2 linked regions of the Homo sapiens genome follow. The protein of the gene in region 1 purifies or fractionates together with the protein of each later gene. This does not show direct contact. Each region holds a gene or a part of one and is shown on either strand. Other genes may lie near its edges. The genes, in order: ZNF106 and PPP2R2B.

Region 1 (3,821 bases):
CTTTTTTTTTTTTTTTTTTTTGAGATAGGGTCTCGCTTTGTCACCCAGGCTGCAGTGCAGTGGTGCAAACACTGCTCACTGCAGCCTTGACCTCCTGGACTCAAGCAATTCTCCTGCCTCAGCCTCCCAAGCAGCTGGGATTATAGGCACATGCCACTATGCCCAGCTATTATTGTTATTATTTTTTTGAGACAGAGTCTCACTCTGTCACCCAGGCTGGAGTGCAGTGGCGCAATCTCGGCTCACTGCAACCTCCACCTCCCGGGTCCAAGCGATTCTCCTGCCTCAGCGTCCTGAGTAGCTGGGATTACAGGAGCACGCCACCATGCCCAGCTAATTTTTGTATTTTTAGTAGAGATGGGGTTTCACCATGTTGGTCAGGCTGGAATTATTATTATTACTAATAATAATTATCAATAATTTTTGTATTTATTTGTAGAGACAGGGTTTCACCACATTGCCCAGGCTGGTCTCAAACTTCTGGGCTCAAGGAATCCACCTGCCTCAGACTCCCAAAGTGCTGGGATTACAGGCATGAGGCACTGTGCCTAGCAACATTCCAATTTTTCAAATTTTAAATGACTTATCCAAAGTTATATAGGCTACTAATGGAAGGGAGAAGATTTGAACCCAGGCCTTTTGATTCCTAATCAAAACTCTTTCCATAACATATTGTCTGTTGCTAAACATTTTTGGGATGCACAGTTTACAGACCTTTCTATAGAAGGAAGAAACTGGCCAGGCGTGGTGGTTCAGGCCTGTAATCCCAACCATTTGGGAGGTCAAGTTAGGAGGACTGCTTGAGCCCAGGAGTTTGGGACTATCCTGGGAAACACTGGGAGATTCCATCTCTATAAAAGCATTTTTTAATTTTTATAACTTTTTATAATTTTATATAACTTTTTATAACCTTTAAATTTTTACAATTTAAATCATAATTTTATAAAATTAAAAGTTAGAAATTTTAATAACCAGGCATGGTGACACACGTCTGTAGTCCCAGCTACTGGGGGGAGTGAGGTGGGAAAATTGCTTGAGCCCAGGAGGTCAAGGCTGCAGTGAGCCATGATCGTGCCACTGCGCTCCAGCCTGAGTGACAGAGCAAGACCCTGTCTCAAAAAAACAAAAAAAAAGGATGAAACCAAGGAGACAGGAGAGAAATAACATGACCTTTTCATGACTACTTTTCATCCCCTCAAAGAGAACAAAAAGGCCTGGTGCAGTGGCTCATGCCTGTAATCCCAGAACTTTGGGAGGCTGAGGCAGGCGGATCACCTGAGGTCAGGAGTTCGAGACCAGTCTGGCCAACATGGCGAACCCTGTAACCCTGTCTCTACTAAAAATACAAAAATTAGCTGGGGGTGGGGTGGGCACCTGTAATTCCAGCTAATCAAATGCTGAGGCACGAGTATCACTTGAACCTGGGAGGCAGAGGTTGCAGTGAGCAGAGATTGCACCACTGCACTCCAGCCTGGGAAATAGAGCAAGACTCTGTCTCCAAAAAAAAAAAAAAAAAAAAAAAAAAGCAGAGAAAACAAAAAAGTAACACGCTATAGAGGGCCCAATCCATCAGATGCCCTCTGAATACCTTGTAATCCCTGTAGAATCTGTATTCTATGGGTCCTCAGTGCACTCATCTCCATAGTTATCTAAAAATAAAGTATTTTATTAAGCATTTTGAAATCCAACTTGTAAGGTCCTCTAGGTCTCCCCATTTTTCTTCTATGTCCTGACCAAAAATCAGAGTGTCTTGACTGCTCTGTGACCCAGCCAGCCGCAGGTTTTCTCCAGCAGGCTTGAACCCTACCTGGGGCCTTGAAGATTCCCAGGCACTGATAAAAGTATCTAGGTTGTTGCCCAAAACACTGAAAGAAATTGGCCCTGGCCCTGAGCCAAATTCCTTAAACCCTCATATAAACTCCACATCCCGCCCCCTGGCTGTGGATATACCTAGGGAGAACACCCTTGTGGGGACTGCTGCAGCCTACTCTGTAAGTAAGCTCTCCTAATAAATGCTTTGGACTCATCACCCTGGCATTTAGTGCTTCTTTCTTTGGAATCCTAACTGTCCCCCATTAGGCACAGTCTGGGGCACTTCCCTTGTGGAAACTCCCCTGCCATTGCTTTTGGGGTGACTCCAGACATGGGTTTGGCAGCACAAAACAAGATTTCGGAGATGATCCATTTTTATTAAATCCTCCACATGCTGTTACCTGCTGCTTGAGCATAAGTAGCCTCTGAACTTCCACATAAGCTGTCTGAAGGGCTGCACGGGCTTGCAGAAGATTGTTATCCATGCACTGCAATGACTTACTAAGTTCTTCCTCCCTTAAAGAAATATTCAGCAGCTGGTCAACCTGAGAACGTTCTGCCAAAAGAAATCATAAGGTTCAGGTTAATACGAGAGATTTCCCTCTCATCACACAGCTCAGAAGACTAAACTATACCCATTATTTAGGATAAGACTTTATGTTCTCCTCAGTAGGTCATTGGAAATTCATAAAACATTTAGTCAAGCACAATGATATCAAAGCTAGGAACCAAAAGTGAGAACTGCTAAGATGGAGGTATCTCATAAGCTCCAGTGTACCATCACATCATTCTGTCTCATCTAATCACCGCCTTCTACCACCACCTTTCCAGGTGAAATCTGTCCCATGCAAACCACCTGTTCTAGGACTCGTTTCCCATTCTTCCTTTATCTACCACTGTCTTCACACAGGACTTTTGCTTAGATTGGACTCTAGACCTAGACTGCTTGCACTCTCTTTCCAATCCATATTTAGTCTGTTAGTTGACTTAAAAATTGTTTTTATTAGAGAAGACTTCCTGAAGAAAATACAGCTTTGAAATAGTACATTTAACTTAGTTTGAATAAAATGTTCTGTGTATGTATTTACCATCATTGTGTTTGTCTGTTTCCTATTCAATATGCCAGGACCTCTCCCTTAAGCTCCACACCCACATATCCAACTACTGACTATGATATTTCTAGCTAGGTTATCTCAAAGGTCCTTTAAGTCAAAGAATCCCTGAGGGAATTCATCATCTTTCTCTATTCTCAATCTGCTCCTCTCATGGAGTTTTCTAGCTCTACATATGCTCCATCTGGTTGGCCCAGCCAGAAATGTGGGTTGTCCTTGACTCCTCCCTTATCCATCACATCCACTCACTCAAGCCTCATCCAATCACTTCCAGGACTAGCCCTTATACTAGAACTGGGTTAGAGTCAAGGAAAAGCAAGAATCACAGAAATACATCAATGAGGGAGCAATGTTAATAACTTCTTTCCATAATTCACTTTAGAAAAGCAACCAAGGAAGGGAGTGTGGAGGTGGGGCAGCGGGGAAGCAACCAAGATGCCTCAAAAACTGAAAGTGAGAGAAATGGCTATACATGACCAAGAGGGCCAACACATTTCATCCCACTGAAAAGGCTCAAGGAAACTTCCTGGCTTTATATTGTCCAAGTGGTATACTAACCTTGGCTTACAAGTCTATGTGACATCATATATTTCTTCTACAGTTGTTAACTGGATGTATTAGGAAATCAAACTTTTCTTTCCTCTTAAGCAAGGCAACAAAAATGTCCAAAAAAAGTAAATGGACAATCAGTGTTTGATAAATGACAAGCTATGCTCTGTGTCAAGCTGCACAAACGCTGAACTGCTACAAGAACCTCTTGGGGCTGGGCACGGTGGCTCACATCTATAATCCTAACACTTTGGGAGGCCAAGGTGAGAGGATCACTGGAGTCCAGGAGTTTGAGTCCAGCCTGGGCAATATAGCTAGACCCTGTCTCTACAAAAAAATAAAAGAATT
Region 2 (3,821 bases), on another chromosome or scaffold:
AAGAAAAGGAAAATAGAACTTAAACGATGTAAATACCAGAAGTTGGATAGAACAAGAAGTTCCCTACAGTTTTGACCTATTCGTTTCAGGGAAGATTCATGCAATTTTGTTGCCAGAGGGGGAAGAGTCCCTGTTCTTCCAATGAATTCCTTAAGAAGTGTTAGTATACCTTGAAAAAGCACCAGATCAAAAGACTTTTTAAAAATTCTCCTCACTGGGGACTTGCCCCACAAGTTTTCTTCCCCCTTATTAACTTATACCCTCTTACTGGGTGGGGAATTAGCTTCTAGTCCTTCCATAGATCTTGCTTTTCTGTTTCCTTTACTATTTCTACATTTTCCTCCTACCTGCTCAGTTATGTCAGATTGTTCTTTTTTTTCCTCCAAAATATCTCCTTCACATGTATTTCTGAATTTTTCTTCTGTTTGCTCAGATCATTCCACATTGCAGTGTTCTATTTAAAGCTGAAAGGTTTTTGCTGTGTAGTTAGTGTGAAGGACTCTAAACTCAATTTGCATTGTAAGTGGTGACTGCAGGCAAGTTCATCCAGCTAAGAGCAATGCAAATGCTAAAGGACACTTTCACCCAAGCTCCCCTCTCTCAGTCTCTTTCTCTCTCTCTGTCTTTCTCAAAAGAATGCATGGTGTGCATTTAATAAATAAATTTCCTAGGACTTTTTTTTAATTCTGAGCATGAAAATTACCACCCTCCCCTACCTTTCCTCCTCTTTTAAAGTTAACATCTTTGAGCATCTTCTATGTTCCAAGCACTGTGCTGAGCTCTTTATGTATAGCATTTCAATATATCTAAACCCTGTTAAATGGATGTTGTCATTTCCATTTTCAAAGAAGGAAACTGATGCAACTGAGGTCTGAAGATGTTACTAATTTGCCAAAAGTCACACATTCAATGGAAAACCTTGTCTTCAAACTCAAGCCAGTGTCTGAAGGCCAGGTTCTCCCACTAGGAAATTCTGCACTACTTCATTTTCCTTTAACCATCAGCTCTTATTCTGGGAAAGATTGCAATGGTTTTATCTCAGTGTATAAGCTATATTTCCATCAGGCATAAAATCCTTTGCAGGGAAAATTTGAAGTGTGTGTATGGGGTTATATAGAGGAAGGGCCTTGGGTAGGGTTGAAATTTCCCACAAAAATAAAGTCAACACAATGGTTTGATTTTTTTTTTCAGATATGGAACCCCAGGTTTCCTAACCAGGGATTCATCTCTCAAATCTCTCTATATGTGGGTTTCCTGCTATATTTTTAGGCTTCTGTTACAGCCAAGTAAAACCCTATCTCCATTATAGCAGTCTGTGAGTTTTCTAGATTAATCTTCCTACTTTCAAATGGGGCCACAGATAGACCAAATATTCTACATAGATGGGGTGTTTTAAAATAACTGCTCTGTTCTCAGTTTCCTTAGCTGGAAAGTGGGAATAACAATAGAACCTATGCCAAAGAAAAATTATTTGATGCAGAGAAAGCACTCAAGCACTCGGGATATGCCTAATACAAAGCCCACCCTTAATTCATTATAGCTGTTATTGTTACTTAATGTACTTCCTGGTTATATTCTGGCAACAAGTGGGTTCCACCTTCCCTCAGAAGCCTTTTTAAAAAACTGTCTTGTTTATACATATTAAAGGAAGAACAAGTTTACTATTCCAAGTAGCTCCTTTCAATTATTGATTCATTCTGCCTTTAATTCCTTCAACAAATACTGACGTTTTGCAGAGGTGATACGGGATGTTCCAATACAGACGTGGTCTCTGTCCTCAGGGATCTTTCAATCTAGCAAAGGAGATAGTATGAGACAAATAATTTTGCAAATAAATATATAGTTACCAATTGTGATAAGTGATATTTAGGAAAGGCACAAGATGCCTTGGGGTCATAAGGTGGAAAGGTGGATCTAATTTAGATCGGGAGTTCAAGGACAGCCTCTCAGACAGCTGAAACTGAGAACTAAAGGATGAATTTGCAATTAACAAGACCTGAAAGCATTTTAGGTAGAAGGGACAATAGGTACAAAAGCCCAGAGAGATAAAATAGCCTAACTGATTCAAGGAATGGAAAGATGACTATGGCTAGGAACAGGGAGAAGAGTGATAAAAATGAGAATGGAGTCTGCAGTTCATTTTGAAATGTACCAGAAGCAAGAAAGATTAATGCTAAGAGAGAGGGATGGGTAAATGGATAGACATATGATAAAGCAAGTATAAAATGTTAGTCACTGGCCAGCCATGGTGGTGTATGCCTGTAATCCCAGCTACTCAGGAGGCTGAGGCAGGAAATCGCATGAACCCAGGAGGCAGAGGTTGCAGTGAGCCGAGGTCGCGACACCGCACTCCAGTCTGGTGACAGAGCGAGACTCCATCTCAAAAAAAAAGTTAATAACTAAATTGAGGTGGTGGGTCTATGGATAATCACTGTAATTTTTTTTCCACTTTGCAGTCTGTTTGAATTTTCATAATAAAATGTTGGGGGAAAAAAAGACTGGAGAAGTATTCAGGGACCAGATCATATCAAGCCTTGTTGACCACAAGGAGTTTGGACTCTATCCAAAGATGAATGGAAAGCCATTAAGGAAAAGGGAAACATGATCAGATTTGTTTTTCTAGAAGTTTAATCTGGCTGCTGTGTAGGATGGGGTTAGAGAGCCAGGCATGTAATGAAAAAGAATGAAAGTTGGGAGATAATTAGGAGGTCATGGTGTGCTCCAGGATGGTGGCATCAGTAGAGATGGAGAGAATTAGATGGATTTAAGATACGTAATAGAGAAAGATTGCATTGCACTTACTTACTATGATTGGGTGCAGATGGAGAAGGTGATGTCAAGGACAACTCCCAGAATTTTGCCATGAAAATGGATGCATAATGGGGCGCATCACTAAAAGCGGAAACAGACTGAAAACTGATTAGTTTGAGAAGACAGTGAGACATCTAGTTTCACAGTGAGACTTGCAAGTAGACAATTGGATTTCTGGGTCTGAAGCTCAAGAGAAAGACCTGGACTAGATAATAAATTTGAGATTAAACATCACCAGCATATTAAAGGTACTTAAAACTGTATGAATAGATGAGATGCCTCAGATAAGAACATTTCAGGGCAAAATTTGAACCAATGAGTGAGAAAGTACAAGGAAGTGGATCTTGGCTTGGTATGAAGAAATTGTAGCAAAAAAGTACCTCACAATAGAATAGGGCCTTGGTAAGCATAAATAACCACACACTGATATTATTCAAGTAATACTATAATATATGGCCATTTCTCAGCAATGTGGTAGGATAAGAAGAGTCCAGTCTTGGATGAGTTGAGTTTAGAACGTCTCCAGGTTTGAGATCTGAGTGATTTGTGAAATACATTAGCTTTTTAGGGCCACAGAGAGTAAAAGTGAGGAAGTAAAGATTCCTCCTCCATCCCCCATTCCAAATAAGCTCAAGAAAGGGGAAACTTATAATGAATAAAGCTGGGAAGGTACATGAAAATGGCTTTTGATATGAAGATGCTGGGAAGGCATTGAAAAAATAAAAGGGGGTAGTGTCATATGATGGAGAGCTGCCTCATAGTTCCTTAAGTTGCTTTGGTATTTGTATGCAAATGCCAGATCAGAATGCTGTTTCCAATGCATATGGATGAATGTTTGAGCTCTCTGCTGTTCTCAGAGAAACCTGAAATGCGAGGTGAGAAGTAGCTGCCTTACACTATTGTAAATGACCTTTCTGGGGATGGGAAATGTTCTGCTACTAAACATAATAACCAGAATGCATTGAAAATCACTAGCAAGTATTCATTATTAGCATCCAGGTCCCCAGGGG

The links.
Region 2: the proteins of ZNF106 (region 1) and PPP2R2B purify together in Homo sapiens (co-immunoprecipitation; one large-scale study listed by IntAct). This does not show direct contact.

What each region holds. Positions count from the first base shown.
Region 1 is NC_000015.10:42,442,614-42,446,434, forward strand, and holds part of ZNF106 (zinc finger protein 106), read right to left. Parts: intron 2,369-3,821; coding exon 2,214-2,368; intron 1,650-2,213; coding exon 1,589-1,649; intron 1-1,588. UniProt on the Homo sapiens protein: RNA-binding protein. Specifically binds to 5'-GGGGCC-3' sequence repeats in RNA. Essential for maintenance of peripheral motor neuron and skeletal muscle function.
Region 2 is NC_000005.10:146,872,192-146,876,012, reverse strand, and holds part of PPP2R2B (serine/threonine-protein phosphatase 2A 55 kDa regulatory subunit B beta isoform), read left to right. Parts: intron 1-3,821. UniProt on the Homo sapiens protein: The B regulatory subunit might modulate substrate selectivity and catalytic activity, and might also direct the localization of the catalytic enzyme to a particular subcellular compartment.